3 separate regions of the Homo sapiens genome follow, and regions 2 and 3 are each linked to region 1. The links come from fine-mapping of genetic effects on gene expression. A gene starts in region 1. Each other region holds a variant in brackets. All regions are shown on one strand. Distances are from middle to middle. Region 1 holds the start of EREG (epiregulin). Region 2 overlaps LOC105377276 (a long non-coding RNA gene). Region 3 overlaps MTHFD2L (methylenetetrahydrofolate dehydrogenase (NADP+ dependent) 2 like).

Region 1 (2,770 bases):
CTATGAGGCTAGGGAGAAGATAAACGACAAAAGCTATAAGAGATCAGAATGAAAAGAGATCCACAAGCCTAAGAAGCCCAGGCCCTTGAGGAGAACCATGAATTTGAGCAGGATTTCACTAATTCCTTTAAAAAGTAGCCATTGCCTCAAAGTACGACTCCATCAGCATAGGCAGGAAAGTGGGAGTGAGGAAAGGCTTAGAGTTTTCCAGCCTGGCTGGGGTCAGACAATTTGCCTGGGGAAATAGTGGGAGCTGAGGTTGAAAAGACCGATTGGCTTCACGTTTGTGGCAGGCCTTGTCCAAAAAGCAATAGGAAGTCGTTGAAAGGTTTTGTGCAGGGGAGCGACAGGATTAAGGCACTACTTAGTAGGAAGTCATATCAAAAGCAGCAACCTGACAAATGGCAAATACGACAGAAGGAAAAAAAATAACAGGAATTTTCTTCACAATGACTCGACTTTGAGGTAATAAATGCCTGAGCCACATTGGAAGCAGGGGTCTCAGAAGGAAGGCGCAGATGGGAAAGGCTTTTCTGGGCGGTGGCGTTTCAATGCAAGGAGGGCGCTTGAATCACTGACAGACTTCAAGTTAAGGGAGTTTTCGTGGCTGAGGTTAGTAAGTCACACGCACAGCTCTCCAAAGGCATGTATGGGGAACGCCAGCCTTGGCTAAAAGACTGATTCAAGTTATGTCCGTCACCCTGAGCAACCAAAACCACCCACTACAGGGCAGGTGACCCCACAAAGCAAACCAAGCCATCTGGTCCACGCTCCCCACCTCCCGGAGGGAGATGGAAAAGTTTCGGGAGTAGTCCCCGGCCAATCGGAAAGACATTTTTTCATTCCTCAACCACTACTCTCAGGTGCTCCAGGGAGGGAGGATGACTTCCTGACGGTCCTCCTGCCGCTCCTCCCTCGGGCCAATTATGAAACTCTGGGCACTCTTGACCTCACCCCGTTAGGGCCCGGGAGGGGCTCCCTAGTATAAAGTTCGCAGCACCAGACAGTTGAGCTCACTTGCCTGATATTTCCAGTGTCAGAGGGACACAGCCAACGTGGGGTCCCTTCTAGGCTGACAGCCGCTCTCCAGCCACTGCCGCGAGCCCGTCTGCTCCCGCCCTGCCCGTGCACTCTCCGCAGCCGCCCTCCGCCAAGCCCCAGCGCCCGCTCCCATCGCCGATGACCGCGGGGAGGAGGATGGAGATGCTCTGTGCCGGCAGGGTCCCTGCGCTGCTGCTCTGCCTGGGTAAGTTCTCCCCCTCTGGCTTCCGGCCGCCCCAAAGAGGAGACAAATAAGGAAGGCTCCTGTGCATTTGTCATTCGACAAGTACGGAGTTGTCTCCAGGTTCAAGTGTGCTCTATTTAAAATTACGTCTTGTTTTGTGAGTCTGTCTTCCCCTATGGTGGGACTGGGGTGGGGGGGACTGGGGATCGATGTTAAAATGCTTTTTATTGGTGAATTAATTATTGGCATATATGTTATGCATGGATTGAAATATCTCCTTATTAAACAAAATAAAAAGTTGTTGAAAAAGCTTTTTTTTTTTTTTTGAAAAGTTGCCAGTCCTAGAAATCTAAAGGCCTGGAACGCACTGTTAACATTTCATGTCTTGTTCCTTTTTGTTGGAGAGTGGGGAATAGAAACTAGCGTAAGAAATTTTTTGGAGGGGGGAAAAAGCTTTTCTCCTCTGTCTTGCGCTCAGTTTTCTAAAACCTAGCCTGGTTTAGCTTTCCCGGAGGAGCTGGTATGCGCCAGTGCCAGTTGGCTGAGCTCCAGACACAAGAGAAATAAAACACTGGTCGAGGGTATCTGGAGCAGAAGGGCCCTGGGCAGGTCCTGGCGCTCCCCACCGCCCTTCGCCCCTACACCTGCTGCTTGCGTTTTTCCCTGCAGCCTCCCAAGCAGCCTCTGGAGCAAGCGTTCTGCACTTGCTGCTAATTGCACTCCATAGCCTGTGATCGCTGAGGGTATTTAAATGCCAGTCTTCCTATTTGAGATGATTTAGTTCAAGGGGAAAAATTTTCTAAATAGCCTTTCTGTTAAAAAAAAATTACTTCTTTCCAATTCCTTAAACTTCAGTTTAAGGAATTTGAAAGAGTTTGAAGTCGTATATGAATATCTTAATAAAAAAATAAAAGTTACCACCAGTCTCATATTCTCCCTGGAGTTGGAATGAGGCTGATTCCCCAGACACTCTAACTCTACCTGTGAAGGATGTGACTGTTAAATTATTATTTTGGCACACCTTATCTCAGGGGTTGAGAGACCTAATGAAATGCATACTATGCATAATTGAAACTTACAAGTCTAAGTCCAGGAACACAAGTGGAAACTAGATATGTGGTTTCTGCCAAAACTGAGCTAAGAAAGACTTGCTAGAAGATTCTCAGTAAACAATGTGGCTTTGCTGTCTTTGTTTTGAAAAGAATTAAATTAGAAAGGTGACAGTCTTCCTAGAGTTAGAAATTAACCTCGAGGTCAGAATAACTTAGCACTTATTATTTTCCCCACATGTAAGGTTGCATCTGAACAATGCACATGTCTGTTCTGGGTGTTTCATTGAATATTCTAATTTGAGACAGCCAGAGCCTGTGAATAACCTGGTTACTACCCACTAGTGTGTGTGTTGTGTGTGTGTTTGTTGTCATGAAAGTGCTTACCTCCTTCATTGCATTACTTAATTATAGTTCATCTATTTCGTCAGCTGCCAAGCCCATTTCCAAATGAGTTAGGTCAGTTTCTGTTTTCCCAGTTTGTTTGGATATTTCT
Region 2 (2,770 bases), 35 kb before region 1:
AAACACCCCAGAAGATAAGAGCATTATATGGATAAAATAGACAAGTAAAAATCCTACAGTTAAAAATACAGTCTTCAGTATTTAAAAACATATCTTGTAAGTAGAATAAGTACTACAGTAGGCACAGCTGAAGAGAAGATTAGAAATATGGAAGATGATCTGAAGAAATCAGCTAGAATGCATCACAAAGTAAAGAGATGTAAAGCATGAAAATTTCAGAAAAAAAAAAAAAGCCCAACATGAGTTCCAGAAGGAAAGGCTAGGTTAGAGGAAATATCTAAGAGATAATGGCTGAGAACTTTCAGAATGAAAGCAGGATATAAATCTTTAAATTGAAGTTGTATTCATAGTCTTAAAACTTAGTTTAAAAAACATAGTTTAAAAACTTCAAAGCCATACACACAAAAAGAAATATTACTAAAAAAGAAAACTAGTTAATTATAATGGCAGTAGATTTCTCATCAGTGAAAGTAGATGCCATAACACAATGGAATAAAGTGTTCAAAATACTCAGGGGAAATCTCTGTTAACATAGAATTCTACCACCTTTGATAGTAAAAACAAAAAAATAGACATTCAGCCACAGCCACAAAGGATCTTGGTATTTCTAACAAGTAAACTCAAACCACTTATGTATAATTGAAGCTACAAAAATTCAACCATGGTCTATACAACAAGTTAATTTCACATTTTTTTCAAGGACAGACAAAGTTTAAATGCAAAGTTTTCTAGGACAAATATTTTAACAGATATAGTTTTTTAAACAAACATTTTGTGACTCAGGATTATAAATCAACCAAATTTATAAATTATTTTATTCTTCTTAGCAAACATATGGAAAGAGAAACTCAACTTTATGATGATAATATAAAAAACAAACAAAGACTTACCACAATGGTTCATGCTTATAACTTCACCTCTTTAGGAGGCTGACGTGTGAGGGTCACTTGAAACCAGGAATTTCAGACCAGCTGGGCAACAAAGGGAGACCTCATCTCTAAAAAAAATTGTTTTAAATAAATTAGCTGAGTGTGGTGGCACACGCCTGTGGTCCCAGCTACTCGGGAGGGTGAGGTTGGGGATGGCTTGAGCCCAGGAGGTCGAGGCTACAGTGAGCTGTTATTGCACCACTACATTCCAGCCTGGTGATGAAACAGGAATTAAAAGAAATTAAAGAACGTGTAAGCGAAAACTCAGTTGTATGTAAAAAAACCCAATTCCCCCTGAGAAAGAAAAAGAGGTGGAGTCCTTTAAAAATTAACGCCTGTTTTTCTGTCTGTGGCTTGTGAGTCTTATCTCTCTCTTTCCCAGGCATTGCGAAGATCCTGTTTCTCTAACTGTGCAGTTGCAAGGTTACTAGGCAGATAAACTCAAGTCGTAAAACATGTTTTTCCTTGAAAAGTTAGAAATAATGTAATGAGTGTCTCAATTGAATAACGGTCTTTGTTTCTCACTTCTGTAATATGCTTCCCCCTGCAAAGATCTCCC[G/C]CTGCCCCATGAAATGCTTAAAAGGTAACCTCACTCTTTGTTCGGGGCTCAGTCTTTTTGGATGCTAATCTGACTAGGCCAGTGCACCTAAATAATAAATAATATATATCCTCTCCGGCCCCTCAGTCTCTCTGATTCCTAAATTATCCCACTGCAGTGACACAGTGAGATCCTAAGAAAACAAACAATAAATTTAATGTAATTTTGTAGTAATTCACCGGTTAATGTTTGCTTACTTTCTTTTTTCTATATAATCTATGTTATAATCAGAGGTTTACCTTTCCAAAGACTAATGGTAGTTGTCTTCTAATTTTTTTCAAGTTTCCCCATTAAACTCATCCTTAGGGCTTGTAAACTCCTATTGTCCTTCCCAGCAAAGTCTAAGTTGAAGAACGTAGAGCTTATAATATTCTGTATCTACAAAAGACTAAGAGTTTAATATCTCTTGTATTGGTTCATTCTCACACTGGTGTAAAGAATTACCTGAAACTGGGTAACTTATAAAAAGAGATTTAATCAACTCACAGTTCCACAGGCTGTACAAGAGGCATGCCTGGGGAGGCCTCAGGAAAGTTACAATCATGGTGGAAGGGTGAAGGGGAAGCAAGCATGTCTTTACATGGTGGCATGAGAGAGACAGAGAAGTGGGAGTGCCACACACTTTTAAACCACCAGATCCCACGAGAATTCACTCACTATCATGAGAACAGCAAGGGGGACATGCACCCCCATGATCCAATTACCTGCCACCAGGTCCTTCCCCCAACATTGAGAACTGCAATTCAACATGAGATTTGGGTAGGGAGACAGAGACAAACCATATCACCTCTAAACGATACTGAAGACTGCCAGTGAATGTATTTCAGCAAGATGAAACAAGAACCCAGGAGAAAAAAATACCATGCAAGTATCAGTGATGAGCAAGGAAGTCAGAGATATGTGTTTGTCAATTGAGTAGAAATTAAAATTAATTTGTGACAACATTTACAAATTAACAATGTGAAACTTAAACACCAGACAACAATAATAAAGGAAGATTGGAGGGAAAATTTAGAAAGGAGTTCCGGTGTGCTAAATTCTTGTCTTGTTCAAATAAAGAACAAAGATATTGACTAAAAAGAGACCATGTTACAAAATTATAAAAACTAAGAATGACTGTAAAAGATATAGTTAACTATTAATATCATTAAATATTTATGTCTTAAGGAGAAGTACTATGTATCACTTTTAAAATAGGAGAGAAACTAAAAGCAGGGACTCCAGTGCTACAAAGCTTGGGTTT
Region 3 (2,770 bases), 100 kb before region 1:
TATATATATACTCTGTTGTAAAACACTAGAATTATTCCCATTTATATAAAGGTGGGACAAAGATAACAACTATTACTTATATTTTCCAGCATTGTATTGTTGGTGTTCCTGGCTAATGCAACAAGTTGACAGACATGAGTTAGGAGACAAAGACTTCTAAGAGGAGACGAGGTGGTGTTCTTTGAAGGTATGATAGTTTATCCATAAAGCTCAAGATAATCAACTGATAAAATATTAGAACTAATGAGAAAGTTCAGCAAGGTTGCTGAATACAATAACAACGTAAATGTAGGTAGTATCTACAGATATCAATAATATATAATTAGAAAATGTAATAGAAAATATATTCCACTCACAGTAGTAATAAAACTATAAAATTCATTGGAATAAAACTAAACAGAAACAAGAATATAGAAAGAACTTTTCAAATATATAATCAAAGGGAAAAGTCTGAGCAAGTAGAGCTCTAACCCATGTTTTTGCGTGGGAGAATTTATTCACGTAAGAATGCTATTATTGCCAAATAAAGCAATAAATTCCATACCATCCAAAGGCTCATGATTTTGCACAGGAGTGGAAAGATTTATTCCACAAAAGCATTATCTTATAAATAATGTGACCATATGTCATGATTTATTTGAAATAGTTCAAAATTATGCCTAGCAACTTGTAATTATTATTAGCATCCACATATTTATAAGAATAAAGATTAATTGGAAGAAAAAGCGTAAGAAGACTTTTTCCTTCTGCTTCTTAGCTTTCCCACTTGCAAGTTGTGTGAGCTTGCTACCTAAGTTATAAGTTACTCAAGCTCTCTGTTCCTCAGTTTCCTTACCTCCGAAGTAGGGATAATAACATCTACATCATATATTGTTCTAAGGTCAAATAGAGATAATACGTGTAAAGCACTTAGAACGCTGACTGACTCAACAAATGTTAATTATTATGAACAGAGTAGTATTTTATTCTGTCTCAAATCATATTATAAAGAACTGGTAATTAAAATTAAAGCATAGGCATAAGAAAAGACAAATAATGGGGAAGGATGAAAAAACAAACACACATTCGTATGTGTGAATCTATGTAAATAGGGTAGTGTCATTAAACACTGGGGAAAAACTAAATACTTCAATCAATAGTATTAAAACATTTGACTTCCCATTTAGGAAAAAAATCTAGTTAAACTCCTACTCACCCCATACATACAAATATATTTCAGATGAGATAAAGAACATAAATTAAAAACAACAAAAATAAAAATTATTGGAGAACTTAATAGAACTTGGTCATAAATTT[A/G]GAGCAGGTAGGATTTTCTTAGAAAAGATACACACAAATATACAGACAAATATGTGAGTAAAAATAAACAGAAAAGCTGGAGGTATATATATATAATTCCTAAAATCTATGGAACAAGTGCCTCTTAGAGTTAAAATTTTAGCATTTTATTGGGAGAAAATATTTGCATTATACATAACAAAGAATTAGTATGCAGCATATATAAATATGTTTTTAAAAATATGGTTGAAAATACAAAAACCTAACTTTTAAAAGAACAATTTATAGGAAAGGATATTTAAATGGCTAATACACATGTAAAAATTGCTCAATGTCACTGATAATCAGACAATTGCAAATTAAAGCAAAACAAGACACTGTTTGCACACATCAGATTGGCAAAAAATGAAAAGCTTGATGATATCAAATGTTGGCAAGGATCCAGGGAAGCACATACTTGCATATGCTGCTGATGAAGTTATGCTTTATTATAGTCCCTCTAGAAGGTAATTTGACAATGTTATGAAATCTGAAAATGTGCACTTCATATGACCTAGAGATTCCATTATTTTTCCACATATCTAAAAATACCTGACCTGTATATTCAGAAATCTGTATTACAGCTCGTTGGTGATAGTAAATAATTGAAAGCAGCTAAAACATTCACCAATAGAGGAATAGAGTGTGTACTTATCTCTCAACTCACCAAGTTGTTTACATTAAATATGGACAGCTTTCTGTATGTCAGTTACACCTTAGTAGTTTCAAAATTTTAATCCAAATGTAATCCTATATATATATGTGTATATATGTATACATATGTATGTATATTTATGTGTGTGTGTGTGCTGTCTTATTTCTACGTTCTCTATTCTGTTCCATTGGTCTGTGTGTCTGTTTTTGTACCAGTACCACGTTGTTTTGGTTAATGTAACCCTGTAAATATAATTTGAAGTCGGGTAGCATGATGCCTCCAGTTTTGTTCTTTTTGCTTAAGATTGCCTTGGCTATTTGAGCTCTTTTTTGGTTCCATATGAATTTTACAATTGTTCTCTCTAGTTCTGTGAAGAATGTCAACATTCTAAAATCTATAAATTGAATCTATAAATTGCTTTGGGCAGTATGGCCATTTTAATGATATTGATTCTTTCTATCCATGAACATGGAATGTTTTTCCATTTTTTTTGTGTCATCTCTGATTTCTTTGAGCAATGGTTAGTAGTTCTCCTTGTAGAGATCTTTCACCTCCCTAATTAGCTGTATTCTGAGGTATTATATTTTACTCTTTTTGTGGTAATTGTGAATGGGAGTTCATTCCTGATTTGGCTCTTGACTGGTGTTGTTATATAGGAATGCTAGTGATTTTTGCATATTAATTTTGTATTTTGAGACTTTGAGGAAGTTGTTTTTCAGCTTAATAAGCTTTCTGGCTGAGACTGTGGGGTTTTCTAAATATAGGATCATGTCATCTGCAAACAGGGATAGTTTGACTTCC

Evidence for each region. PIP is the estimated chance that this variant, and not a neighbour inherited with it, causes the effect.
Region 2: its variant is fine-mapped to the expression of EREG in whole blood (TOPMed, PIP 0.98).
Region 3: its variant is fine-mapped to the expression of EREG in whole blood (INTERVAL, PIP above 0.99).

What each region holds. Positions count from the first base shown.
Region 1 is chr4:74,364,130-74,366,899 of GRCh38, forward strand. EREG (epiregulin) reads left to right here and starts at 1,016. Exons shown (of 5, transcript NM_001432.3): 1 at 1,016-1,246. The coding sequence starts at 1,180. It overlaps LOC105377276 (a long non-coding RNA gene), which reads right to left and starts at 1,212. Exons shown (of 3, transcript NR_188415.1): 1 at 1,022-1,212.
Region 2 is chr4:74,329,308-74,332,077 of GRCh38, forward strand. LOC105377276 (a long non-coding RNA gene) reads right to left here. Exons shown (of 3, transcript NR_188415.1): 2 at 891-997. Among named protein-coding and RNA genes, the nearest start is that of EPGN, 22 kb to the left of the region's middle. RefSeq lists a cis regulatory region at 1,180-1,479. The variant G/C (reference allele first, on the strand shown) is at 1,489.
Region 3 is chr4:74,261,023-74,263,792 of GRCh38, forward strand. The region is part of intron 6 of MTHFD2L (methylenetetrahydrofolate dehydrogenase (NADP+ dependent) 2 like); the gene reads left to right. Among named protein-coding and RNA genes, the nearest start is that of EPGN, 46 kb to the right of the region's middle. The variant A/G (reference allele first, on the strand shown) is at 1,297.